Regions from separate parts of the Homo sapiens genome. Here all the other regions are reported to be linked to region 3. The links are microRNA targets in miRTarBase. Many come from high-throughput screens and were not tested one by one. Region 3 holds a microRNA gene; each other region holds the end of a gene's coding sequence.

Region 1 (7,997 bases), not on the chromosome of region 3:
TGACCTTGTTTTATTTATTTATTGAGATGGAGTCTCACTCTCACCCAGGGTGGAGTGCAGTGGCACCATCACAGCAAGCTTGAACTCCTGGCTTCGAGCCATCCTCCCGCCTCAGGCTGCCAAAGCGTGAGGCACTGCCGTGGTTCTGGGCGTCGGGATACGCTCCCCTGGACACGCCCTTGGCTTCCTAGGTGCCTCCTGTTAGGTTGAGAAGATCTGTGAGGTGCACCCTGCATTTCTTGTGAACTTTTCATCTTTCCTAGGTTTCAGCAAAGGTTGCGTGGCTGACCCTCATCCTTTTCTCTACTGTGTGTTCAGCAGCCATTTCTGAATTTCAGCCCCTTTGGCCATCCGGAGAGGCTAAAGAATTTATTCCTTTTGTTAACAGTTCTTACACTAATTTGCCTCTTTCCTCTCTTGAAGGCAGCACCTCCGAGACTTTGCTTGGAAGTTTCCGCAGCTAAATATCCCGAGTGTGTTGCTTTTGAGCTCTGACTTCCTATAACTGCGGACCCCGTGTCCCTGTTCCTCGGCCACTCTGTAACGGGGGTCCCCTTTTCTCCGTTTCCCAGTAACACACTCCTCACTTCCTTCCAAGCCCACACCAGGTGTTCCTGAAGTCCATATTTCTGTTAACAGCCTGTTCGAGGCAATAGAGGCCTTTTCTATTTTGCCCCTCAGAATTCTTCAGGTGAGAACAGGGAGGGCCGTCTTAGGTCTCTGCCCCCCACAGCGTGCAGTGGAGGCCAGCCTGGGGCTGGAGATGCTGTGAGGGGCAAGGAGGCTGCAGGCAACAGCCTTGGGTGGCGGGAGCAGCCTACTTAGTGTAGTTTGATATTTTTAGGACTGATGCTGTACTCAGAAAAGGAGATGAAACTTCCTTCTGCTGTTTCTGTGATTTAGAATTTTAAGACAAACGGTACTTTAGTTAACTTATGCACCAAACATATATCTTGAGCCCCCACCAGGTTTGTGGTCTAGTGGTGGAGCCTAATGTCAGATAAGACAGGATTCCCACTCTCATAGGACGTTGTCTGATAGAAACAGCTGAGTAAATTAGCAGGGGGTTCTGAAGAAGTGAAAGGAGGCAGATGTTTATGAGATATAAATACCGAAGAAGTACACCCAGGTCAGATAGGGCTGCAGGGAGGGTGCTACGGGCAGCCCCCAGTCATTGTAGAAGGAGCTTGGTGCATGCTGCATGTAGGGCCTGCCTGCAGCATGGAGAATGAGAGGGCGGCCAGAGGTGGGCTCCAGACCCTGATCAGATTTGCCTCTCCTGAACCAGAGACTTCACGGGGAATACTTTCTACGGAATAGTAGGTGGAAGCCAAATGCATGATCTTGTGGAAGTGAACGTTAAAAAACAGTCTTTAGGTGGGGTATGCCTGCAGCCCAGCCACTCTGCAGGCCGGGGTGGGACTGGAGCTAGGGGTTTGAGTCCGGCCTTAGCAACATAGCTCGCATCTCTAAGAAAAATAATCAGGCCGGCACAGTGGCTCACGTTTGTAATCCCAGCACTTTGGGAGGCCGAGGTGGGAGGATCACTTGAGGCCATGAGTTTGAGACCAGCCTGGCCAACATGGGGACACCCCATCTTTACAAAAAACTAGAAATTTATCTGGGTGTGGTGGCTCGTGCCTGTGGTCCCAGTTACTTAGAGGGCTGAGGTGGGAGGATCATTTGGGCCAGGAGGTTGATTTTGCCACTATGCCCTAGCCTAGATGACAGTGAGACCCCATCTCAAAAAGAAACTTCAACAAACCAGGATAAATTTATGCCAGTACAACAAAGGGTTAATATCCTTATCTTGTAAAGTGCACATGAGTATTCATGAGGAAAAGAACTAGTCTCTTGAAAGATAAGTAAAGAATTATCTACTTCCCTAACCATAAACATGCAAAATGTCATCTTCATTTCATAGTTGAAGGGCTTTTAATACAATTTATGTCATTGCTCATAAGAGCACTGTGAAAAACTTACACATTGCTTTTATCAGGTAAATTAGTACAAATTAGATGGGGGTCTCATTTTGTTATCCATGTTGATCTCGGACTCCGGGCCTCAAGTGATCCTCCTGCCTCAGCCTCCCATAGAGTTGGGATTACAGGCATGAGCCACTGCGCCTGCCCTCCTTTGACCTTTTAATTTCCCCTTAGAATAACTGTCCTAAATAAATACAGAAAAATGCAGGAAAGAGCATGGTGGACAATGCATTGCATCTTTAAAAACACATTTAGCTGCTTCCTGTATTCTCCTGCATCATGGCATACACTCTCGATTTTATGCGTTCTTCAGTGATGTTAACAAGAGCTTGTCACAGTGGGAAAAATACGGCATTGTTTTCAAGGAATTCTTTTTTAAAGAGACTTCTATGAGAATGGATGCCCTTGTTTCTCGTTGCAGGAACAAGCACATCATGATTGACTTGGGGACTGGCAACAACAACAAGATTAACTGGGCCATGGAGGACAAGCAGGAGATGGTGGACATCATCGAGACGGTGTACCGCGGGGCCCGCAAAGGCCGCGGCCTGGTGGTGTCCCCCAAGGACTACTCCACCAAGTACCGCTACTGAGGCGCCCTCAGTCTGCGCGGATAAATGTCGTGGAGCCCTTTTTGTATGGAAACGTTTTAAGCTATTTAAAGCCTTTGGAAAATACAGGAAGCTCCAGGGCTGGAGCACCTCTGAGATGGAATTGATAACATGGTCTTAACTCACCGAAATAAACAAGCACGTGGTGAGAGGAGCAGGCCTACTTGTTTGTTCTCAGGAAACTTAATGAATAGATTACTGATTTTCCTAGTCAAAGTTAATTCTTACCCTTGGAGTAAAACGAAGGTGTTTATCCTGTGAGCCTGTGCGTTTTGCATACTGGGTTGGTTTGCTGGGGCTGCGGTGACAGCATATGCCGCGAGCTGGGCTTTAACAGAGATGTGTGCTCTCACAGCTTTGCAGGCGGGGGTCTGAGATCAGGGTGTCGCGGGTGGGGGGTCACTGCTGAGGCCGTGAGGGGAATCTGCTCAGGCCTGTCCCTGGCTTCTGGGGGCTGCTGGTGGTATTTTCAGTTCCTTGGTGTGTGGATACTTCGCCCCATCTCTGCCTTCACCTGTGTCCTCCCTGTGTGGGTGCTGGTGTCCAAAATTTCCCCTTTTCGTAGTGACACCAGCTGTGTTGGATTGGGGCCCACCCTGCTCCAGCATGGCCTAATCTTAACTAATTACATTTGCAAGGATCTTATGTCCACAAAAGTCACAGTCTGAGGTGCTGGGGGTTAGGACTTCAATATATAAATTTTGCGGTTACACAATTCAATCCATGACAGAATCCAAAGGTTTACTCTGGTTATAAAAACAGTACAATAAAATATTGTTTATAGCCTTCCCTGTAAGGAATAGGAGAGCTATTTTTTATTCTTCCCAAGATTGTATTTGATGTAAACATATTTTCTGTAGAAGCCATGGCCCTTCAGTTCATATAGTTAGAAAATTTCCTTATTGGCCAGGCACGGTGGCTCACACCTGTAATCCCAGCACTTTGGGAGGCCGAGGTGGGCAGATCACGAAGTCAGGTGTTCGAGACCAGCCTGGCCAACATGGTGAAATCCCGTCTCTACTAAAAATACAAAAATTAGCTGGGCATGGTGGCGCGTGCCTGTAATCCCAGCTACTTGGAAGGCTGAGGCAGGAGAATTGCTTGAACCCGGGAGGTGGAGGTTTCAGTGAGCCGAGATCACACCACTGCACTCCAGCCTGGGCAACAGAGCAAGACTCCGTCTCAAAAAAAGAAAAGAAAATGTCCTTATTACAGTCTCAGGTTTCTCTTGCCCTCTGTCATCCTAGCAGTGTGGATGGTTGGTTGGGATCTTCGTGTCCCGTCTCAGCACACTCGAGCTCTGAAGTGAAAGTGAGGAAGGGCAGGGATGGGGGCACTTGAGCACACCGTGGGCCCTCTGACCTCAGACCCAGGCTCTGCCCCACCAAGTGACCTTGGGCAGGGTACCTTCTCTGAGCTTTGTTTCCTCCTTGGTAAAGGCGGATAATAGTGTCTGCCCTGCACACAGATGTGGACGCAGAAGCACGTGGTGCCTGCCGGGCACAGGAGTGGTGCACAGGGCTCGCTGCTGTCGGGAGATTGATTGCTGTTGTGGAAACGGGAGGGTACTTACAGAATGAAGCACATTTTTTACATACAGTACAAATGAGTGTGTGCTTTTTAAATGGATTTAAAATTCAAATGCAAATCTGCAGTTTAATCTCCCAAGTGCTGATTTTTCTATGTATAAAGTAGGAGAGTGCAACAGCGTATCGGAATGAGGGGCTAGGGAGAACGTGTATGTGACCTCGAGTACCTGGCATGTAACAGACACTCAGTATTACACTCCTGCTATTTCTCCAGAGCAGGTGAAACAGACGGCCAGGAAGCACACGAAGAGACACTCAGCATCACTGCTTGTTAAGGAAGGTGCAAATCAAAACCACAGTGAGACGCCACTTCACACCTACAAGTTCGGCTAGATACAAAAAGATCGCAACAAGCGTTTGCAAGGATGTGGAGAAATTGGAGCCCTCACACACTGCTGGTGGCAAAGTGGTAACACAGGCAGGCAGGTCGTCAAAAAGTTAAACATGGGCCGGGTGCAGGTGTCTCAAGCCTGTAATCCCAGCACTTTGGAAGGCTGAGACAGGCAGATTGCTTGAGCCCAGGAGTTCACGACCAGCCTGGGCAACCTGGTGAGACCCTGTCTCTACAAAAAATACAGAACAATTAGCTGGGCATGGTGGTGCGTGCCTGTGGGCCCAGCTACTCGGCGGGCTGAGGCAGGAGGATCACTTAAGCCCCAGAGGTCAAGGCTGCAGTAAGCCATGGTTGTGCCACTGCACTCCAGCCTGGGCAACTGAGCAAGACCCTGTCTCAAAAAAATAAAAAAAGATAAACATGGTGTTACCATTTGACCCAGCAGTTTCATACCCAGGAGAATTGAACGCATATGTCCACATAGAAACTCGTACACAGAAGCCAAAATGTGGAAACCCACGTGTCCATCAACAGATGAACGGTTAAACAAAATGTCCATCCATAGAACGGAATATTATTCAGTCATAAACAGAATGAAGTACTGTAAGTGAAAAGCCAGTTACTACATATTGTGTGATTCCATTTATACGGAATTTCTAGAATAGGCACATCCATAGAGACGGATTAGTGGTTGCTTAAGACTGGGAGGGAGGGGGAAATAGGAGGTGACAGCTAATGGGCAGTTTTATTTTTGATGTAATGAAAATGTGCTTACATAAGCCGAGCAGGCATAAACAGAAAAAGTGCCCTAAGATTGTGATAATGGTACAATTCTGTCAATTGCATAATTGGTGGATGATGTGTGAATTATGTCTCTTAGGATAACAGCTTTACTGGCGTTACCAGAAAAAGATAAAATAATTACATTCCACATTTGTAAGTTTATTGTATATTTATTGTAAATGTGTTGCATATTGTATTAGTCTGCCCAGGACTGCCATAACAAAATACTTCAGATTGGGTGGTTTAAACAACAGAAACTTGTCTTTTCACAGTTCTGTTTTCTGGAAGTCCCAGATCAAGGTGCTGGTCCGTGTGATTTCTGGGGAGGGCTCTCCTTGGCTTGCCGATGGCCTCCTTCTCTGGTGCAGGCACGGAGGGGAGAGCAGGCGAGCCCCTTGCGTCTCTTCTCAGAAAGACGAATCCTGTTGGATGAGGGCCCCACCCTCAGGACCGATGTAACCTTAATGACTTCTGTAGAGGCCCCATCTCCAAATACAGACATGCTGCAGTTAGGTCTTCAGCTATTTAGGGAGACATAAACGTTCAGGCCGTAACTCCTATCAGGTGTATTAAGTATGTTCACCCCTGATTTTAATAACGTTCTCACTGGTGCTTTGTGGCTGCAGTACAGTTGAAATCATAATGATTTGGACTCTGTATTTCAAGTTTATCTCATTATGTACCTGCTGTCTACCTTGCCCTGACTTAAGTGCTTTGCAAGCAATTTTCTTAAATCCTTACAACCACTTACCAGGTAGATATTTGGCAGAGAAGAAAACTAAAGCTTAGATTTCCCCAGGTTACAGCCAGCAACAGAGGATAAGAATTTGAAACCTAGGCCTGCATGGCTGCCAAGCCTTGCCTCGTCTGTGGCACTGTGGTGCTTTAATCAAGTTGGATATACTAGTGGCTCTCTGGGTACCTAGTGAATTCTATTTCCCATCTCCCCAGGATGGCTTCTAGGCAAAGTCCAGAAATTACTTGTGGCAGCTAATGCAGGTGACAAGCCCCTAGGTACAGAATAACCAAGTCCCCTAGAGAAACTGGCAACGTGTACACAAAGAAGTAGACAAGAATAGTGCAGCATTGTTTGGAAACAATATTAGTCAAATATAAAGTAAATCATCAGAGGACTATCAGGCAGCAGTTGGCGACTGACCTAGAGCGACACGTGTCGACATGAATCTCAGTACTGAACAAAAAAGCAAGGGGCAGAAGGCTACAGAGTATGGGGCCACTGACATACTGCTTTAAGACTTTCAGAATAAACGTCTGAAGGTTATGATGCCAGTGTGTCTGCAGGAAACTTGGTTAGGTGTCTGGGGGAAGACTGCCTCTGCTCTGAGCGCACGCAGAGAAGGGATGAGGACTTCAGTCCACCAGCAGAATCAGAGCACTGCCATCTCTGCCTACCTGAACAGACCACACCCAAAAATTAAAATGCAGGGTGAATTCACGGCTCACCAGCTTTCTGACCTGGAGGTTCAGAGGATCCCTGGGGAAGCATCCGCGTGGGCACAGGTGGGAGGACCTGCTCAACGTGGGCGCTATTCTGCATCGTTTTTTTTTCTTTCTTTCTTTCTTTCTTTCTTTCTTTCTTTCTTTCTTTCTTTCTTTCTTTCTTTCTTTTTCTTTCTTTCTTTCTTTCCTTTCTCTCTCTCTCTCCCTCCCTCCCTCCCTCCCTCCCTCCCTCCCTCCCTCTCTCTCTCTCCTCTCCTCTCTCTCCTCTCTCTCCTCTTTCTTTCTTTCTTTCTTTCTTTCCTTTCTTTTCTTTCATGTTGTCTCGCTCTGTCGCCCAGGCTGGAGTGCCGTGGCACAGTCTCGGCTCACTGCAAGCTCTGCCTCCCGGGTTCACGGCATTCTCCCGCCTCAGCCTCCCAAGTAGCTGGGACCACAGGCGCCCGCCACCACACCCGGCTATTTTTTTTTTTTTTTTGTATTTTTAGTAGAGACGGGCTTTCACCATTCACAGGATGGTCTCGATCTCCTGACCTCGTGATCCGCCCACCTCGGCCTCCCAAAGTGCTGGGATTACAGGCTGAGCCACCGCGCCTGGCTTCTGAATCATTTTTTCTGTTATTTTTACTAATGGCTTTAAACATGCCTCTGATCCTAGCATTCTTTTGTGGCATGTTTACATTCAGCATCAGAAGCTGTGAGAATGCCTACAGTGCCCTGATGAGGTTCGGGTTGCACTGGGTGGCCTCAGATGCCCTGCAGAGGAGGCACTTTGGGAGGCCGAGGCGGGTGGATCACCTGAGGTCAGGAGTTCGAGACCAGCCTGGCCAATAAGGTGAAACTCCGTCTCTACTAAAAATACAAAAACTAGCTGGGTGTGGCCGGGCGTGGTGGCTCACGCCTGTAATTGCAGCACTGGGAGGCCAAGGTGGGTGGATCACCTGAGGTTGTGAGTTGGAGACCAGCCTGGCCAACATAGTGAAACCCCGTCTGTACTAAAATACAAAAATTAGCTGGGTGTGGTGGTGCATGTCTGTAGTTCCAGCTACCTGGGAGGCTGAGGCAGGAGAATGGCTTAAACCCGGGAGGTGGAGTTTGCAGTGAGCCAAGATCATGCCACTGCACTCCAGCCTGGGCGACAGAGCAAGACTCCACCTCAAAAAAAGAAGAGAGCATTTGGAAATTTATTATTCCTGAGCAGTTTTCATGCAGCACAGAGGCAGCAATTCCCATAGTG
Region 2 (7,997 bases), not on the chromosome of region 3:
GCCTTGGCCCCTCATGACTATGGGTGTCACCTGCCCTGTGTGGCCCAGGGCCAGGTGGAAGCCATCCATGACTGAGTAAAATCAGAGTAGCATCCTGCTCTGCTCTCCTGTTTGCAAGGTTAGGAGTTGGCTGAAAACCAGCTGAAGAGTGGCAAGTGTGAATGCTGTTTGTTGAAGGCTGATGGGATGGTTTTCAGCCATTGGAGTTCTGGTGTGGGCACAGCAGGGACAGTTGCTGGCAAGATGGGTGTGTGTCCTGCCCTGACAGTCACGTGCCTGACAGGCTCTAGACCTAGCAGGGCCACTCAAGGATTTACTGTCCCCTTGGCCATGGGAGATGGGAGAGGGACAGTCTTCCTGTGCAGCTGAGCACTGCAGTGTAGGGGAGAAAGAACTCTATTTCTCCCCTTTTAGGGCCCCAGGCTGGGCGGGAGAATTAAACTGACATAAGCTAAACTAACAGGGTCAGGTGCAGTGGTTCATGCCTGTAATCCCAGCAACTTGGGAGGCTGAGGTGTAGGAGGATTGCTTGAGGCTAGGAGTTCGAGACCAGCCTGGGTAACATAGTGAGACCACCATCTGTACAAAAATTAATAAATTAGCCAGGTATGGTGTTGCATCTGTGGTCCCAGCTACTTGGGAGGCTGAGGTGGGAGGATCACTTAAGCCCAAGAGGTTGAGGCTGCAGTGAACTGTGATGGCACCACTGCACTCCAACATGGGTGACAGAGTGAGGCCCTATCTCAAAAAAAAAAAAAAAAAAAAAATAAAGGGAGATGGGTTAATGGGAGAAAAAACATAGGATTTTTTTTTTTTGAGATGGAGTCTTGCTCTGTTGCCCAGGCTGGAGTGCAGTGGTGCGATCTTGCCTCACTGCATCCTCCACCTCCTTGGTTCAAGTGGTTCTCCTGCCTCAGCCTCCCGAGTAACTGCGACTACAGGTGTGCACCACCACGCCTGGCTAATCTTGTATTTTTAGTGGAGATGGGGTTTCACCATGTTGGCCAGGCTGGTCTTGAACTCCTGACCTCAAGTGATCCAACCACCTCGGCCTCCCAAAGTGCTGGGATTACAGGTGTGAGCCACCGTGTCCAGCCAGGCATATTAATTTAACACAAGTTTTATACAGCACAGGCTCCCTTATAATGAAATGAAGACTCAAAGTGGCAAAATTAAATCACTTATATACTGACTTGGACAAAGACTAGCCACTTGTAAAAAAGCAACTACATGATGTGGGGATGCTTGAAAGAGTTGTTTTCACAAGGTCTGTACCAAATTCTGTCGGCCTTGACTTCCTGTCGTCCTTGATGATAAAATCATTTTATTTGATATGGGGAGGGCGTCTTTCACTTGGGAATTTCATTTGCTTTTAAGAAGCAGAATGGAGGTCAGGGTGATCTTGCACTGTTTTTTGATTTTTTTTAAAAAAGGCCTTGCTCTGTTGGCCCAGGCTGGAGTGCAGTGGTATGGTCATAGCTCACTGCAGCCTCAAACTCCTGGGCTCAAGCGATCGTCTTACCTCAGCCTCCCGAGTTGCTGGGACCATAGGTGTGCACCACTATGCCTGGCTAATGTTTTTGATTTTTAGTAGAGACAGGTTTTCACTGTTGCCCAGGCTAGTCTCGAACTCCTGGGCTCAAGCAATCCTCCCACCTCAGCCTCCCAAAGTACTGTGATTACAGGCATGAGGCACCGTGCCAGGCCTCTTCTGTTATTGTTTTTTTTTTTGTTTTTTGTTTTTTTTTGGCTCACCGCAACCTCTGCCTCCCAGGTTCAAGCGATTCTCCTGCTTCAGCCTCCCAAGTAGCTGGGACTACAGGCGTGCGCCACCACGCCCAGCTAATTTTTATATTTGTAGTAGAGATGGGGTTTCAGCAGGTTGGCCAGGATGGTCTTAATCTCCGGACCTCATGTTCTGTCTGCCTCAGCCTCCCAAAGTGCTGGGATTATAGGCGTGAGCCCCCGTGCCTGGCTTTTTTTTTTTTTTTTTTTTTTTTTGAGATGGAGTCTCGCTCTGTCGCCCAGGCTGGAGTGCAGTAGCATGAACTCGGGCTCACTGCAACCTCCGCCTCCTGGATTCAAGTGATTCACCTGCCTCAGCCTCCCGATTAGCTGGGATTACAGGCGTGCCACCACGCCTGGCTCATTTTTGTATTTTTAGTAGAGACGGGGTTTCACCATGTTGGTCAGGCTGGTCTTGAACTCCTGACCTCATGATCCGCCCGCCTTGGCCTCCTGGAGTGCTGGGATTACAAGCGTGAGCCACTGTGCCTGGCCTAATAGTCGATGTGCCTGAGCAGCATGTTTTGGAGTGGCATGTTCTTAACTCCTTCAAGAGCAAACAGGTTCCCCTTCCCCTGGGGAGGGTGGGTGAGGACACAGGTCTTTTCCTGCCACCCGTTTGCAGGGACACGTGATGGACCGTAGGAAGAAGGCACTGACCGACTACAAGAAGCTGCGGGCCTTCTTTGTGGAGGAGGAGGAGCATTTCCTGCAGGAGGCTGAGAAGGAGGAGGGGCTCCCTGAGGACGAGCTGGCTGACCCCACTGAGCGGTTCAGGTCACTGCTGCAGGCGGTCTCGGAGCTGGAGAAGAAGCATCGCAACCTGGGCCTCAGCATGCTGCTGCAGGTGCGGGAGCCCCGCTGGGTCTGCCCACCATCGGGCCAGGGTGGACGCAGGCAGCAGCGAGCCATTGGGGGACCATTGCCCGAAGTCAAGGCTTAAAAGCCCAGCCTGACTCCCACTGCCGTGGCCTTGCAGGGCTGAATTTCGGGAATGGGTGGGTGGTCAGGGAAGGTGATGGGAAGGGGTTTTAAGTTGAGGAGGGTCTGAGGTGTCCCTGACCTTCACAAAGGAGGGCACTTGGCATCCCGAGTGCCCGAGCATGGAAGGCTCCTGCCTCGCCCTGGGGTCCTGAAGGCAGAAGCAGCCAAGAAACCCAACCTCAGGGCTTTTCTTCTGCCTCTGCCCAGGGCCTGGCCTGAACCCCAGACCCTGCAGCAACCCAGATGGCCCTGAACGGTTCAGTTGCCCGTGCCAGCCATAGGTGACAAGGCTTTGGCCCTGGGGAGACGGAAGTCTGGGCCAGGCCCTGGGTTTGTTGTGCTCAGGACAGTACCTCATGCGCTGTCTCATGTGCGCTCTCTCTTTCGCTCTCTCCTTTTGCCTCTGTCTCTGACTCTGTGTGTCTCTTTCTCTTTTTGTCTCTCTGTCTTTCCCTCTCCCCTCCCATGCAGTGATGGCGCCAACCCGTGGCAGTCCCAGAGCTGGAGGCAGGAGGATGGATCCTCATCTCCATGGGAAGTGTCAGCGTGTGGCTGCCAGGGAAGCGTGGCAGGCGCCTGGCCTTGGGTCCATCTACATAGTTGCGTGTTTCAACAATGTCCATTTATCCTTCACCCCGAGGCGTGTTTTGGGGGCTGCAAACACCTCCCGGTAGAGGCTGGACCTGAGGACCCTTCCCACCTGTGCCCGTCCCTTCCTGAAGTCCTAGCCACAGCCCATCCTCCATGAGTCCCGGCAGCTCTGGGTCATGCCCTTCCCTGGTCACCCATCTGCCCCTCACCTCGTCATCCAGGGACCCAGACCCTGCACCTTCCATGTGGGCCCACAGATCCTTGGCAGGTACCTGAGGTGCACCATTGAGTGTCGGATTTGGGGTTAGCATCCAGAAAGAAGAATGCGCATGACGCTCTGTGAAGGCTGGAACTCAGGTCTTCAGGGAGAGAAAGGAAGACTGGATTGCACCTTGATGCCTCCTGAGGAGGCGGCCCCCCTCTTGAGGTGGGCGTGGGCCCGGCCCAGCCTTATCCAAGTCGCTCTGTCCACCTCCCCCTTCCTGGCCCCCACCCCACTCCTGTGCCTCCCAGGAGCCCTCCCTGTGCTCCACCTGCCTCCGCAGAAGGAAGCCTCTTTCTCTGTTTCCCTGGGTGAGGGGGCTGGCAGGTGGCTAACCCCATTTAGCATCTCCAGGCCCTGCCATCGTGTCTCATCTTGCTGTTATCTCTAGCTCTTTCCCTCCTCCCATTTCCTTTAGTAGTTGAATTTTGCAAAGCTTGTAGCAGTAGCTCAGTTGCCTGCAGCATCCTTGTGTGTAGATAAATTAGTCGACAGAAACTCAGCACTGGGGACAGGATTGCAAAGTCGGGGACATAGATGCAGACAGTTGTTGAGATTTGGGGATAGCCGGGCTTGTGAGCGGTGCCCATTTCCAGATGAAGCCTTTCAGCCCTTCTGAGTCCCCGGCCCTTGGTGCGATGTCTGTGAGTTTGACCTGCCCAGCGTGTGGGCTGGCTCAATGCTGAATAAAGTGGGTTTGTGTCAGCTCGTTTGCTTCGTCTCCGTGTGTCCACCTGGCCTCTTCCCCCTGCCCTGGCCACCCTCCAGTGTCAAAGGAAACTTCCTCGTGACACGTGCTAAAGCATGGTGAGGAGGACTTTGATTGGGACCATTGAGATGGGTGTGGGACCCTTTCCTTGGGGCCTGGGGGGAGATGGGGCTCCACCCCGACGTAGCAGGGCAGGGGTTGGAGGAGCGAGGAGCAGTATAGGGTCCATGGGTGGGAATGACTGTGAGGAGACATCAGGGCTGAGGGGGCTCTGGCTAAACCCACCTCACAGAGTCCTTGCTGCAGGCAGGCAGGGCGATCAGACATTGGCTGCAAACGGTCAGAGAGGAACCCAGTCAGGTACCATTGAGGGTGGTCAGATATTATGGTTAACCAAATTAGGGTTCTTGCTAAAACTGGATTTCATAAGAAAGGGCAAAGAGGGCCCTAGGAGAAGATTCCAGAGCCTGGCCAGAGTTTGGCCAAGTAGAGAATCTTTGTCAGCACGCCAACAACATCCCGACCCTGAGACCTCCAGTTTGTCTTTCTCACTGTCTCCGCCTGCTGCAGTCTGCTGTCATCCCTGAGCATCCCTGCCCCTGCCCTGCACACCTGTGATGCTTGCCCGGACAGGTCCTGATGGCAGAGTCTCCCACAACATCAGTGTCTCCACATCACCAGGTCCGACAGTGGCTTCACCATCCTCACCTAACCTAGCTGACCAGCAACATCCCACCCTGTCAATCACAACCTCTTTCTATTTAAGAAAATTATATATTTATGGGGCACAGTGTGATGTTTTGATATCTATGTACATTGTGGAGTGACAGATTAATGTATCCATCTCATGTTTTTTTTGGTGGTGAGAATATTTGAAATCTACACTCAGCAATTTCAAATACAGTCATCCCTCTGTGCCTAAGGGGGATTGGTTCCAGGACCCCCTCATGGATACCAAAATCTGCAGATACTCAAGTACCCTGCAGTCAGCCCTCCCTCTGCACATATGTGGGACAGTCAGATACAGAGGGCCAACTGCGTACAGTACACGGTTATCAGCTGAAGTCACCATGCTGTGCAATAGACCTTGAGTTTATTCTTGTATAGCAGGGACTCTGTACCCTCTGACTAGAATTTCCCCAAATCCTCTTGTCTCAGCCCCTGCTAACCACCGTTCTACTCTCTAATTCTATAAATCAACATTTTGATTCCACATATAAGTGAGATCATGTGATATTTGTCCTGTTCCTGGCTTATTTCACTTAATATAAATGTCCTGTAAATTCACCCATGTTGCAAATGGCAGGGTTTCCTTTTTTATGGCCAAATAGTATTCCATGATGTGTATACACCACATTTTCTTAAGCCATTTATCCACTTTATCCCTTTATCACTTTGCTTCTAGACCACGTAGGTTGATTCCGTATCTTGACTGTTGTAAAAGTGCTCTTAAGAAACACAGGAGTGTGGGTATCTCTTCCATATATTCATGTCGTTTCCTTTGGGAAAATACTTAGCAGTAGGATTGCTGGGTCACGGTACTCTTTTTAAGTTTTTGAATAACCTCCATATGCTTCTCCATAATGGCTATAATAATTTACATACTCACCAACATTTATTTTCTTTGAAATTAGTCATTCTAAGAAGTGTGAGATAATCTCATTGTGATTTGGTTTACGTTTCCCTGATGATTAATGATGTTGAGCATTTTTTTATATACCTGTTGGCCATTGGTATGTCTTCTTTTGAGAAGTGTCTCTTCAGGTTCTTTGCTCATTTTTTAGTCGTTTATTTGCTTTCCTGCTATTGAGTTTGAGTTCCATGTATATTTTGGATATTAACCCCCTACTTAATGTATGGTTTGCAAATACTCTATCCCAATTTGTGAGTTGTCTTCACTCTGTTTATGATTTCCTTTGCTGTGCAGAAGCTTTTTAGCTCTATGCAATCATGTATGTTTATTTTTCTTTTGTTGCTTGTGCTTTTAGGGTCATATGCAAGAAGTGATACAACCCTGAAACCTAGGCCAGTGTCATGGAGTTTTTCACCTGTGTTTTCTTCTACTGGCTTTACAGTTTCAGGCCTTACAATTAAGCCCTTGTCTGTTTTGAATGGATTTTTGTGTAGGGACATTCCCTCCACAAGGGCTTTCTCTGGCCTTGCTGATGCTCCTCCGTCTCCCTTGTGTCCTCTCCACTCCACCCTCTTCATGTGGAAGAACCCTTGGCATCCTCGTGTGGCCTCTCTGTCCTATCCAGCCCCCCATGGTGACCTCACACTTGCCTCTCTGACGTGGGTCTCTCTCCCAAACCCTCTTCCAGGTCCAACCACTGCCTCCATCCCAGACTTGCCCAGGGGCCCAATCCCTGCAGTCCTCAGACATCTCAGAGCTGTCTCTGAGTTGTTTTCTCTAACAGTCCACAATAGGTCTGCAAAGGAATCCTGCAGGCTCTTCCTGTAGCCAAAGACCTTGACCTCATCTTACCTGCTCCCCGCCAGTCCCCCACCGTGGCCCACTGGCACTGTCCTCTTCTGCCCAGGAGACCTGGGGACCTCATCTCCTCCCGCTGCTCCAACAATGCATTCTCAACCCAGCAGGTAGATGGGTTTCTACTTTAAAATATGTAGGATGAACCAGTCTGGTGATCCGATGTACAACAGGAGGAATGTAGGTAATAAAATTGCACTGTTTTGGGAGTTCCTGCTAAATGACTAGACTTCAGCTGCTCTTGCCACAAAATCCTAAAAGTGGTTGACTCTGGGAGGTGATGGGAATGTTAATTGCTCCCCTGTAGTGACCATTTTGCTATCTGTTTGTACTTTGTAACATCACGTTGCATACCTTAAATATACACAATGAAATTTATTAAAACAATGAAAATAAAAACTAAGCAAGAGCCTGCCCCTGCTGTACTCAAGGCCCTGCAGCAACTCAGATTCATTCCGGGAAAGCTTCGCAGTGGCCTGGGAAGTGCTACATAATCCACCCCGAGCTCTTCCTCTCTCGTCACCACTGTGCCCCCTGCTCCCTGCAGACCCAGCATGATGGCCTCTCTGTTCTTCAGCAAGCCAGGTGGGCCCTGCCTCGGCCTCTGATCTCCAGGGAACATTTCTCCCCCATACCTGTGTGGCGGTTGCCCCTCTCCTTCAGGTCTGCTCCCACAGGGTGTTTTATAGAAATGGCTTGAAACAGACGCCCTTCCTCAGCCCTTGACCACGCAAGCTCTGAGGAGCCACTGGTGTCCCTGTGGCTTTGCTGCAACCAGATCTCTCTGGTCAAGGGCAGCCCTAGGCAGGAGGATCTCCGAGGCTGGCTGTGGGTGACATGTGGAAGGAAACTGAGGCCAGGCACTGCATAGAAAAGCAACAGTTTGTTTGCTGGAAGGTAGGGGACACATTCTCAAGACACTGATGTATTTGTCCAGTAGCTCAATACTTTTTTCTCAACTCTTATTTTCAGAGCTTTGTGGGAAAGCCGTGGATAGTTGGGACCCAAAGGTCGTTTTCAGTTTCAGGATCCTGTGGCCAAAGAGAGGAGATAAAAATGCTTGGGGCCATTTTACCTTCTACATTACCTAACTGAGTAGCTATTATTTCATGAGGTTGACAGCAGCAAAATATAAGGAGATGCTTAAACTATTTAGTAACTGGAGAATCATAATTAAA
Region 3 (7,997 bases):
TAAATTAACAATGTGAATCTTTTTATACAATACTTACATGGCTTTTTGTTGGCATGTTAGCATGCCTAAGAAAATCTTAATAGAACCAAGAATGTAAAATTTGCCTCACATTCTAAAGCCAGAAACAAATCAAAAGCAATTCCTATTAAACCCTATAGAACCACAGATCACTACCAAACCCACAACAAAACATACACATTTATTAACTTGTTTATTAGATTTAAATCTCAGTTCAAGCCCAATTAAGTTCTGAACACAATGAATACTAGTTTCAGTCTCTAGGGAGAAAAGCCATTTAAGTCTTTGTTATTAAAACATATTTGACTTACATTTTAGAATATTTAAGAAATCATCCAGCAGGCTTCCTATCACACTGTTCCAGTTTTTAAAAAAATTGCTAGTGTATCTCCCCAAAAGCACACCATTTTGCAAACTACCAGACCATGCTGTATTATGAAACTTTTTTTTTTTTTTTTTTTTTTTTTTTGCGTTTAAGTCTTGGTCTTGCGCCCAGGCTGGAGTGCAGTGGCAGGATCTCAGCTCACTGAAACCTCCACCTCCCAGGTTCAGGTGATTCTCCTGCCTCAGCCTCCAGAGTAGCTGGGATTACAGGTGCACGCCACTGCACCCGGCTAATTTTTTATATTTTTAGTAGAGACAGCGTTTCACCATGTCGGCCAGGTTGGTCTCGAACTCCTGACCTCAGGTAATCCGTCTGCCTCAGCCTCCCCAAGTGCTAGGATTATAGGTGTGAGCCACCGTGTCCAGCCGGAACTTTTTAAGCATAGTTTGAAAGCCACGTTTGTCACTAAATAACCAAAAAGACACAATTATTAGGTCTCCTTCAATTCAAAAAGCTTAAGAACTCTGCTAATGTACAATTTGATTTCCATTTTATAAATCACTGTTCATTTCACATCCTGAAAATTTATGTTTTCATCAACTCCAGAATGATAGAATTCTTACCTTTCTATTCAGGAATCCAAGGCTAAGTTCCTTAAATTTCTTAAAGAACACATTAGAGGTGAAAACTTTTGTTAGACTTCAGACAATATTTTTAAAAGCTGATTTCTAGATTTATTGGGTGGTCTAACCTAGTGTTATGGAAGTTTATTTCTTATTACTAAGATAGCCTCTTTTACTCCAAAATACAATGACATTTCTCAAAACTTATCTTTCAAACATCAAGTTTGCCTGTACTTCAGCTTGGGCCCAATTTTACCACTTGGTCCTTTTAAATCTATTATTCAGGTATCCCACATTATTCTACACAAATACACATAGGCTAGAGACAAAAACACATGAAGAAAAGAGAGAAGGCAGAAATGCTGGGTAAAACACTAACTGCCACTTCTTAGTTTCCACTTCAGTGACTTTAAGTCAAATAAGCCTGGAATCAACTATCACTGTTGCCAAAGTCTGGCTTACGTAGGGAGTAGGGAACATAAATGTTAACTACAGACTTAGAAATAAATGAATATCTGAATCTCACCCCACCGCTGCACTCTTGGCATTTGGGAAGAGTGTACACATACATTTAACTGTTACTCTATTTAGCATTTGTTCTTTTTCTAACTCCCATTTTTTTAAGTTGCAGATGCTAAAAGCAGTCTGAGGACCTTGGTCATTTATAGCTTATAAATCACTGACAATCAGAAAGAAAAACTAGTATACAAGCATTTAACAGTTACACTTCAGTTACTCATGTATTGGTAAACTGGTACTTGCTTAATAGAAACAAATTGTACCCCAACCCTAAATTCCATGCTTAAAAAAACTCATCTTTACACATTGCTTTAAACAGAGCGGCATTCTCTCTAAATTTAAATACTTGAGTAATATATGAGCAACATAAATTAACTTTTAGATTAAGTAAAATATCCTGGAATAACACTAACTCCAAAGAAAGCAAAAAGATATACTCTAACTTTACAGATGATCATCAGGTATACAGTATGTTTAGTCATATCGCAATACTTAACAGCCAAATAAATCTAACAACAAAAAATATAGCCAGAATTTATACTGCCAAATCTGACACGCAACCCCAAAAGTGAAATGTTTTTGAATGAAAACAAGACAAGATGTATTTACACAAAAAGTTACACATTTTCTTTAATATTTCATGTATCTTGTACATTTAACAGTGGAAGTCGAAATCTTCAGTAATATTTAATTTTCAAAATCTTCTGGTCACAATCCCCACCAAACTCAACAGGCCGGGACAAGTGCAATACCATACAGAAACACAGCATTGCAACCGATCCCAACCTGTGTAGAAAGGGGTTTGAGTTTCCCTTACTTTTCTACAGACTTTTCACTACCACAGTCAGTTTTGCATGGATTTGCACAGCAGAATATCACACAGCTGGATGCAAACCTGCAAAACTAACCATAGAACAGTGTTCAGTAACAGGACAGTTTGATTGGGCGACAGGCCGAAGCTGGAGTTCTACAGCTAGCAGTACTTTAAGTGCTCATAATGCAGTAGATAACTAAACACTACCTGCACTATAAGCACTTTAGTGCTACAGAAGCTGTCACATCAGATAGACCAGGCAGATTCTACATCGACACAATAAAAGTACACAAAATTAGTAAAAATCATTCATTTGAAGGAAATAGCAGGCCACCATCAGTTTTGCATAGATTTGCACAACTACATTCTTCTTGTAGTGCAACTATGCAAAACTAACAGAGGACTGCAAACAAAAACTATTAAAACACCTATATACTTGCTTGGCTTGAATTATTGGATGAATACATAACTTCTTATGCCAGAAGGAGCACTTAGGGCAGTAGATGCTAATCTACTTCACTATCTGCACTAGATGCACCTTAGAACAAAAAGCACTCAACATCAGCAGGCCCTGCACTTTAAAGCCCAACTTGGCTTCCCGAGGCAGCTGTCACCATAATGCTACAAGTGCCTTCACTGCAGTAGATGCACATATCACTACCTGCACTGTAAGCACTTTGACATTATTCTGACTGGTCACAATCTTCAGTTTTACAAGGTGATGTTCTCTTTTTTCCTGCTAAATTTGAAATAGATAATTAGAATTAACACCTCAAACTCTAACAACTATAAACCATACAAATTCAGCATAATCCCTAATGGGGAAGAAAAAATTAGTTTAATTATCTCAAAGATATGAGGTCCATTTAGACACGTATTTATGCCTTAAGAATTCTTTACAGAAGGCAATCATAACCAACCATCCAACTAGCACTGGAAGTGGTGGCTCTTCCAATGGCTGGCCTCTCCCAAATGGATTGACACATAGAGAAAAAAAACAAAACAAAATGAGACTGCAAATAAATGAGAACTAATTTTGGAACATTTAAAGGCAATTTAGTCCATGTGTACCTTTTAGAGGAAATCTTCACATCCACGTGGCAAAACATTTTCCTCCTCTTCTGGCTTCCACTTAGCAAATACTTGTTGAAATGATTAACAAAATTACTGTTCAGACTACACTTCAAGTGTTATCAGTCAATTGTAGCAGAACGTAAATATCCTGTTTAAATCTATCATCTCAGGTTATATCTACTTTATCACCCAACTTAAAAGAGGGTCTAAAATTATATTTCGTAAACTGCATAAGCCAGTTTCCAAAAATGTACAGGAATATTTACACTGTAATTTTACTACCTTAAAATTAGCAAATCCGTACTTAATGAGTTAGTTTTTCAGAAAAGGTACATTGTCTAAAGAAAGAAACACCTACTTTTACTCTCTAAGAAACCAATCCTATTTATTCAACTTTAATAGCAAGAAAAATTTGTTTTTAAGAAAAGTTCAAGAAAATCAGAATACACTTACCCATTCCAGAAAACTTCCTTTTCAGCAAGTATTCTCAGAAAAGCTACTGGTGCAGTTAGGTCCACGTGTATGACTGGAATAGGGAAAAATAAGGAAAAAAAAGATAAAACATTATTTGCTCAAAATTACTACCACCGTCCAAATCTATATTTGCTATTTTCCAACCTCCTAACAGCAATTAATTCCATCCATTTGTGAGAGTAAGAGTCGAGCAATACTAGCAGGATTTAAAAGCCCAATAATTTACAGTTGAAAAATACGTAAGAGAATAAAGTTGAAAAATCCTTAGCTATCAGATACATGTCTAAATAAGCTCCTAAAATACTTGATTATGATCAGCAGCAATCACCGACTCCACTGTACAGCTCCAGTAAAAGGAAAAAAAAAAAGCAGCCCACAGACTATTCTTCACCACCCCTCCCCCAATCAAGACCTCGTGGCTGCAAGCCGGGATAAAGAGTTGTTTCTCCAACTGCTGTGGTCCTGATGGCATGCCGTTAATTTTCTCTTTTGGTGATATTGCAACGACGAGCCTGCCTTTTTCAGTTCCTTTTCCCTTTGCTGCAGTTTAGGAACAGAAGACCGGGCAGGAACACCCGAGACTGCAAAGTGCCCGCCACGCTCATGGAGCCCGGGCCGGCAGCACATGTCGCACAAGGGGGAGCGCGGCCCTGCGATTCTCCGCGTAGCCGCCAGGGGGCGGCGGGTCAGAGTCAGGCCCCGCCGGACGCGGCAACCCCCCCAACCCGTTTCCCGGCGGCAGCCGCGCGGCGACCGGCGGCGCCGAGGCCCGAGTGCGGCGGGGACGCGGGCGCGCCGCCCCTCCTTTGTGTCCCCCAGCCCCCCCGAGCCCGGCCCAGAGGGGCGGGGGCTCCGCGGCCGCGGTGCCCGTCGCACGCGGCCCGAGGCCTAAGCCGGGAACAATCGGCGGCGGCGCGCAGTCGCCGCCATGTCCCCCGCCCTCACCCCCGTGCAGCCCGCCCCGCAGGAACATGGCGGCGGGGACGCCGCTCCCGCCGAGCCGGGCTGGCCCTCCCGCGCCACACTCCCAGCAAGCGGCCGGGCGCAGGCGGCTCCACGCCGCGGCTGAGGCCGACTGCGGCCTCCTCCGAGGGCCACGGCGGGGAAGTTGCGGGCCCCGCCCCGAGGCTGCCCACGCGGGCTAACAAAGCCCACGCGGAGCGGGGGTGGCGCCCAGGCCGCGCCGATCTCGGCGCCCCTCCGCCCACCCTCGCGCGTACAAAGTTTGGGGAACCGCGGGCTCCCGCCCACGCCACGCCGCCCGCTGGCGCGCAGGTACCTCGTGGGCGCGCCCCCTCCCGGCCCGCGGCCTGCCCCATGTGCCGCCGCCGCCGCCGCTTTGTTCTGGAGGCGCTTTAACTCTCGCCCTCGGGAGAAACTTTCCTACCCAGAGACCCCACGCCCCGCGCGCGCCCCGGGCCCCGGAGAAGGCACGGGCCTCGCACGTCCTCTCCCCGAGGGGCCATTGTGTTCGCCGTCCGCCCACCCGCCTTCGGGTCGGCCCAGGCAGGGTCTGCGCGGGTCCCGGGCGCGGCCGCCACGCGCACGCCGCCCCCTCCCACCCTCCCGCCCCGGCCCTGCCCCCCTCCGCCGGCCCGCGGGCGAGCGAGGGGGCAGCCAGATGCGGCTGCCACACGCCGGGGCGGCCAACGGCCGAGACCCGCCCCGGCCACGCCGCCGCCGCCACGCTGCCCCGGGCCAGTCCGCCCCGGGCCGCTCCGCCCCGCCCGCCAGACCCGGGCCGCACACAACAGGTTTCCCTCCGTCGCCGGAGGGGCGGGCAGACTCACCAGGAGGAGTAGCCGCCACCATCTTCGGCTGGCCGGCCGCGGGCTCCTGCTCCCGCCTCCCCGCCCGCCTGCGCTTTACTACGACCGGAGGCCCCAGGCCGGGGGTGCGGCCGGCCGGCCCGCCCCGCGAGGAGAGCTTCGCGGAGGAGCGCGAGCCCCGGCGGCGCTGCGGTAGTCGTCCCCACCCCCTCGGCCTCGCCCGAGGGCGCGAAGTGGCGCGAAGGCGCAGGTCGGGCGGCGGCGGCGGCACCTCGAAGGACCATGTGGGTGAATGAAGGGCGGCGGCTCCCGCCTCAACGTAAATACGGACAAGCCCCACTCCCTCATTAGCATAAAAAACAAAGTACTTCCGACCTCCCCGCCCGCCCGCCAATCACCGCAGGCCCCGCCCACGGCGGCTCGTTCTTGGCGGCCGGGAGAGCGGGAGCCGGGAGCCGCTGGCGGCGCCGCGCAGCCTTCCCCGGGCCGCGCTCCCCCGTGGCCCGCCCACCGCCGCCAGCCTCGCGGAGCGCCTCGCCCGAACACCTCGCGCCACGCCTCCGGCACGCCCTCCGTTAACAAGCTCTGCGCGCGTGCAGACCCCCGCGCGCCGCACACCCTCCTGGAAGCGCACGCTTCCCGGGGCTTCCTGGGAGCCCTGCTCTCCCTGGGACTCGACGTGTACGCTGTGCGATCACAGTTTATTACTTTACCGGCCCTTGGTGGGTTTCCGAGGTAATTAGGGGCCTGCTCCAGGCCAACCGGAACCAGAGAAGTAAAATCCAGTGACTTTAACATCGAAACAGAATTACTCGCTGCAAAGATCGTTTGAGACCCAGAAATAAATACATTACACCCGACACTCTTGTGAATGCACACTTCGTGGCAATGTGTTTCCTTAACCTGGCCGCGTGTAAACCAAAACGCATGCCCGAGCAGAGGTTTCACAGCTGCAGTACCTGAGCCTCCCCTCTCATGCCCAGCTGCATTTAGTAAGAACTCTGGGTTCTCCAGTAGAAATAGCATAGCTCGGAAAGAACCTCATAAACAACCACAAAGCTGAGAAAAGAAGCCCAATCAGGAGCACCTCCTTCTTCACATTGTGGTTCAGGAAATTCCGGAATTCTCAGAAACATAATTGTTAAAAGTGAGGATTCATAACATTTACGAGAAATACAGCAATTATAAATTGGTTTAAATCTAGTAAGTAGCTACTGCAAAGCACATATCACTGGTTCGTGATTGTACAAGTCAACTGTAAAACACACATTACCAAAGGATGTCTTTAATGCCCCAATGTTAAAATTTTTGACATTCAAACCTTGACAGTATTGTCATTTACTGTCTTTGACTTATTTTATCATGCTTTGCTTAAATCCAATTGTCAAACTAGTGATGACATAAAAAATAGTGGATTAAAGTTTTGCTACTCTTTTTTTTATTGAGTCTAGTTTCTAGATATTCCTTTCTTTGTAAATCAAAATAAAAGGCCAAATCTGAAATTTTACAATATCTAATATTTCTGTAATATAGTCATTTATGAACGTTTCAAAGAGGAAAACACTGCTAATTTTATTACAAGTCTAATTTTACGTTACTTTTGGTCGGCATTGACTAATATGTCAATGCCTTTTTCTTTAAAACTTTATCTTCTGTTTCAAATTAGAATGGTTGAGGCGGGGGGATGTTGTGAGTAAGATTGTTCATCACACTCTCTGAATCATGGGAAATCCCACCTATATACAGGTTTCTTAGCAGGAGTTATTCATCTCATAGTTTCCTTCCAATTAAAGTCAACATTGAAATACTACTAGCTTTAAAAAGCTGTTTTTAGGTATCTCACTATATTTCTGTGGAAATCTGACATACAAGCAACTATTTTCTGTGACTACAGTATAAGAAATAATTCTTAATGTATACCCTTTTTTATGGTAATCAGGATTTTGGAAGACGCAAATTCATTTAAACCTACTGACTTGGAAATTCCAGAAAGTTTCAGAATTAGTAGGTTGCATTTTAAGGGTTTCGCTCATACTTCCTTTCAAAATTAATAAATTATCTTAAGTATAATTAGAATAATTGAAAACGTTTTAATCCCAAATGAATTTGAAGCTTAGCCAACTTGATGTTTTTTGGAAGTCACTACTAGTGAGAAACCTATCTTCCCTGATTTTAGGGGCCACACTTGGGTATACTTGATAACTAAAGGGAAGATTTTTGTGGTTATAATTTTGAAGATCACAAAAATATGTGAACTGCTAACAAATGCCTTCTGCAACCAAGGAATGTAAAAATAAAGCAATCTGAAATGCCAAAGTGAGACACACAGCCTTCTCAAGTCAGCTAAAACACAGTACTGTTTTACACAATCCAGAACATTC
Region 4 (3,824 bases), not on the chromosome of region 3:
TCTCTTCAGCCTGCCTGATTGGAGACGCCTGGAAGGAGCTGACCATAGTGGCAGGTGCTGTTTCCAACCAGCTCTTGGTCTGGTACCCAGCAACTGCCTTAGCAGACAACAAACCTGTAGCACCTGACCGACGAATCAGTGGGCATGTGGGCATCATCTTCAGCATGTCATACCTGGAAAGCAAGGGATTGCTGGCTACAGCTTCAGAAGACCGAAGCGTTCGTATCTGGAAGGTGGGCGACCTGCGAGTGCCTGGGGGTCGGGTGCAGAATATTGGGCACTGCTTTGGGCACAGCGCCCGTGTGTGGCAGGTCAAGCTTCTAGAGAATTACCTTATCAGTGCAGGAGAGGATTGTGTCTGCTTGGTGTGGAGCCATGAAGGTGAGATCCTCCAGGCCTTTCGGGGACACCAGGGACGTGGGATCCGGGCCATAGCTGCCCATGAGAGGCAGGCCTGGGTGATCACTGGGGGTGATGACTCAGGCATTCGGCTGTGGCACTTGGTAGGGCGTGGGTACCGGGGATTGGGGGTCTCGGCTCTCTGCTTCAAGTCCCGTAGTAGGCCAGGTACACTCAAGGCTGTGACTCTGGCTGGCTCTTGGCGACTGCTGGCAGTGACTGATACAGGGGCCCTGTATCTCTATGACGTCGAGGTCAAGTGCTGGGAGCAGCTGCTAGAGGATAAACATTTCCAGTCCTACTGCCTGCTGGAGGCAGCTCCTGGTCCCGAGGGCTTCGGATTGTGTGCTATGGCCAATGGGGAAGGTCGTGTCAAGGTTGTCCCCATCAACACTCCAACTGCTGCTGTGGACCAGACCCTGTTTCCTGGGAAGGTGCACAGCTTGAGCTGGGCCCTGCGTGGTTATGAGGAGCTCCTGTTGCTGGCATCGGGCCCTGGCGGGGTAGTAGCTTGCCTAGAGATCTCAGCCGCACCCTCTGGCAAGGCCATCTTTGTCAAGGAACGTTGTCGGTACCTGCTGCCCCCAAGCAAGCAGAGATGGCACACATGCAGTGCCTTCCTACCCCCAGGTGACTTCCTGGTGTGTGGTGACCGCCGGGGCTCTGTGCTGCTATTCCCCTCCAGACCAGGTCTGCTCAAGGACCCTGGGGTGGGAGGCAAGGCTCGGGCTGGTGCTGGGGCACCTGTAGTGGGTAGTGGTAGTAGTGGGGGTGGGAATGCTTTCACTGGGTTGGGCCCAGTGTCTACCCTGCCCTCTCTGCACGGGAAGCAGGGTGTGACCTCAGTCACATGCCATGGTGGCTATGTGTATACCACAGGGCGTGATGGAGCCTACTACCAGCTGTTTGTACGAGACGGCCAGCTCCAGCCAGTCCTAAGGCAGAAGTCCTGTCGAGGCATGAACTGGCTAGCTGGGCTCCGTATAGTGCCCGATGGGAGCATGGTTATCCTGGGTTTCCATGCCAATGAGTTTGTGGTGTGGAACCCTCGGTCACACGAGAAGCTGCACATCGTCAACTGTGGTGGAGGGCACCGTTCGTGGGCATTCTCTGATACTGAGGCGGCCATGGCCTTTGCTTACCTCAAGGATGGGGATGTCATGCTGTACAGGGCTCTGGGTGGCTGCACCCGGCCACACGTGATTCTCCGGGAGGGTCTGCATGGCCGTGAGATCACTTGTGTAAAGCGTGTGGGCACCATTACCCTGGGGCCTGAATATGGAGTGCCCAGCTTCATGCAGCCTGATGACCTGGAGCCTGGCAGTGAGGGGCCCGACTTGACTGACATTGTGATCACATGTAGTGAGGACACTACTGTCTGTGTCCTAGCACTCCCTACAACCACAGGCTCAGCCCACGCACTCACAGCTGTTTGTAACCATATCTCCTCGGTACGTGCTGTGGCTGTGTGGGGCATTGGCACCCCAGGTGGCCCTCAGGATCCTCAGCCAGGCCTGACTGCCCATGTGGTGTCTGCGGGGGGGCGGGCTGAGATGCACTGCTTCAGCATCATGGTTACTCCGGACCCCAGCACCCCAAGCCGCCTCGCCTGCCATGTCATGCACCTTTCGTCCCACCGGCTAGATGAGTATTGGGACCGGCAACGCAATCGGCATCGGATGGTTAAGGTAGACCCAGAGACCAGGTAATATATGCTCCTGGGCAGGGTGTGGTATGGGTCATGCAGATGCTCCCAGGCTTGCAGGCTCCACCTGACAGCTGCATGTTGTCTCTGCAGGTACATGTCCCTTGCTGTGTGTGAACTTGACCAGCCCGGCCTTGGCCCCCTTGTGGCTGCAGCCTGTAGTGATGGGGCCGTAAGGTGAGAGCATAGGGCCCAGTGGGACAGGAGACAAAGGAAGTAAGGTTGTCTAGGATGCGTTCTGAGCTGGGCCACCCCCCGCCCCCCAGGCTCTTTCTTTTGCAGGATTCTGGGCGGATTCTGCAGCTCCTTGCTGAAACCTTCCACCATAAGCGATGTGTCCTCAAGGTCCACTCCTTTACACACGAGGCACCCAACCAGAGGCGGTGAGAGGGGCTGGATGATGGTCCTGCATGGGCTGGGTTGGGGGGTTCCTGTTGAGCTTCATCTCTGTTATTGACCAGGCTGTCTTTTCCTGGCTCTCAGGAGGCTCCTCCTGTGCAGCGCAGCTACTGATGGCAGCCTGGCTTTCTGGGATCTCACCACCATGCTAGACCATGACTCCACTGTCCTGGAGCCTCCAGTGGATCCTGGGCTTCCCTACCGTGAGTAGCTAATGTGCAACCATGGCTACCCCTCCTCACCTGTCACATAGCCCTCACACATGTGGCAGGCGGGGCCCTGACAACTACCCTCTTCCTCTTCCTTCAGGGCTTGGCACCCCCTCCCTGACTCTCCAGGCCCACAGCTGTGGTATCAACAGCCTGCACACCTTGCCCACCCGTGAGGGCCACCATCTCGTGGCCAGTGGCAGTGAAGATGGATCCCTCCATGTCTTCGTGCTTGCTGTGGAGATGCTACAGCTAGAAGAGGCTGTGGGAGAGGCTGGGCTGGTACCCCAGCTGCGTGTGCTAGAGGAATACTCTGTCCCCTGTGCACATGCTGCCCATGTGACAGGCCTCAAGATCCTAAGCCCAAGCATCATGGTCTCAGCCTCCATTGATCAACGGCTGACCTTCTGGCGTCTGGGGCATGGTGAACCCACCTTCATGAATAGCACTGTGTTCCATGTGCCTGATGTGGCTGACATGGACTGCTGGCCTGTGAGCCCTGAGTTTGGCCACCGTTGTGCCCTTGGGGGTCAGGGGCTTGAGGTTTACAACTGGTATGACTGAGGTATCCTGCGGTGGCTGGCGTGCTGGGCATGGGGCCTGCTCACAGACAGCATGGAGCAGGGATGGGCTGTCTGTGCCCATGCTCAGCATGCCTTGAGGGGAGGAGGTGGTGGCCGTGGGTTCCTGATGTCGGTGCAGGAGCTGAAGGTGAGTGGAGTGCTGCCAAGAATATGCCCGACTCCCCATGACAAGACAGAACTTTGTAACAAACAGTACCAATTTATTTTGGCCGTGGGTTTTTGCTTTTTTTCCAGTTGATGACTTTGTGAACATTCCCAGGTATTGGAGCCTCTGTGGCCTTAAATGTGGCTCAGTGGAGGGAGACCCAGCATAGCCAGGCCAGTATGGAGCACCTCACGCACAGCTCTCAGAAGCTGCAGGCGGACGAACATCTGACCAAAGAGGTGTGGTCGAGGCTCCTGAAAGAGAAAGGGCCTGCTGGTCTCATCCTCTGCTTCCTTTGCCTTTACCCTATACCTCTCTGCACGTCCCACCCCATTTTGCTGTGTGCTCACCCCCAGGATGTGTACCCGGTTGTAGTAGGAGCT

Evidence for each region. The annotated mature microRNA hsa-miR-18a-3p reads ACUGCCCUAAGUGCUCCUUCUGG and lies in region 3 at 2,778-2,800, opposite strand. An mRNA with a match to its seed (bases 2 to 7 or 8) in the 3' UTR can be bound and repressed. Matches are read on the target gene's strand: a 7mer-m8 pairs with bases 2 to 8, a 7mer-A1 pairs with bases 2 to 7 and ends in A, and an 8mer does both.
Region 1: the mRNA of TXNL4A is a reported target of hsa-miR-18a-3p. Seed matches in the 3' UTR shown: 7mer-A1 at 3,554-3,560 and 7mer-m8 at 3,915-3,921.
Region 2: the mRNA of RNF187 is a reported target of hsa-miR-18a-3p. Seed matches in the 3' UTR shown: 7mer-m8 at 4,520-4,526.
Region 4: miRTarBase lists DALRD3 as a target of hsa-miR-18a-3p. The part of its 3' UTR that is shown has no 7-base or 8-base seed match.

The regions. Positions count from the first base shown.
Region 1 is chr18:79,968,266-79,976,262 of GRCh38, reverse strand. It overlaps TXNL4A (thioredoxin like 4A), which reads left to right. Exons shown (of 3, transcript NM_006701.5): 3 at 2,407-5,450. The coding sequence ends at 2,578. HSBP1L1 (heat shock factor binding protein 1 like 1) reads right to left here. Exons shown (of 4, transcript NM_001136180.2): 4 at 5,441-5,823. The coding sequence ends at 5,812. Among named protein-coding and RNA genes, the nearest start is that of HSBP1L1, 7.6 kb to the right of the region's middle.
Region 2 is chr1:228,490,643-228,498,639 of GRCh38, forward strand. RNF187 (ring finger protein 187) reads left to right here. Exons shown (of 4, transcript NM_001010858.3): 3 at 2,411-2,632; 4 at 3,241-5,546. The coding sequence ends at 3,243. Among named protein-coding and RNA genes, the nearest start is that of RNF187, 7.3 kb to the left of the region's middle. RefSeq lists enhancers at 1-160, 2,232-3,177.
Region 3 is chr13:91,345,600-91,353,596 of GRCh38, reverse strand. It overlaps MIR18A (microRNA 18a), which reads right to left and starts at 2,846; the gene lies at 2,776-2,846. It overlaps MIR17HG (miR-17-92a-1 cluster host gene), which reads right to left and starts at 5,910. Exons shown (of 3, transcript NR_197388.1): 1 at 5,638-5,910; 2 at 3,827-3,899; 3 at 1-3,441. It overlaps MIR17 (microRNA 17), which reads right to left and starts at 2,992; the gene lies at 2,909-2,992. MIR19A (microRNA 19a) reads right to left here and starts at 2,706; the gene lies at 2,625-2,706. It also overlaps MIR20A, MIR19B1 and MIR92A1. RefSeq lists enhancers at 3,777-4,324, 4,325-4,872, 6,342-6,421 and silencers at 4,422-5,411, 5,462-6,241.
Region 4 is chr3:49,012,013-49,015,836 of GRCh38, forward strand. DALRD3 (DALR anticodon binding domain containing 3) reads right to left here. Exons shown (of 12, transcript NM_001009996.3): 11 at 3,792-3,824; 12 at 3,476-3,695. The coding sequence ends at 3,576. WDR6 (WD repeat domain 6) reads left to right here. Exons shown (of 6, transcript NM_018031.6): 2 at 1-2,104; 3 at 2,198-2,281; 4 at 2,371-2,487; 5 at 2,588-2,706; 6 at 2,813-3,824. The coding sequence ends at 3,276. Among named protein-coding and RNA genes, the nearest start is that of DALRD3, 4.7 kb to the right of the region's middle. RefSeq lists an enhancer at 1,581-2,418 and a silencer at 2,213-2,342.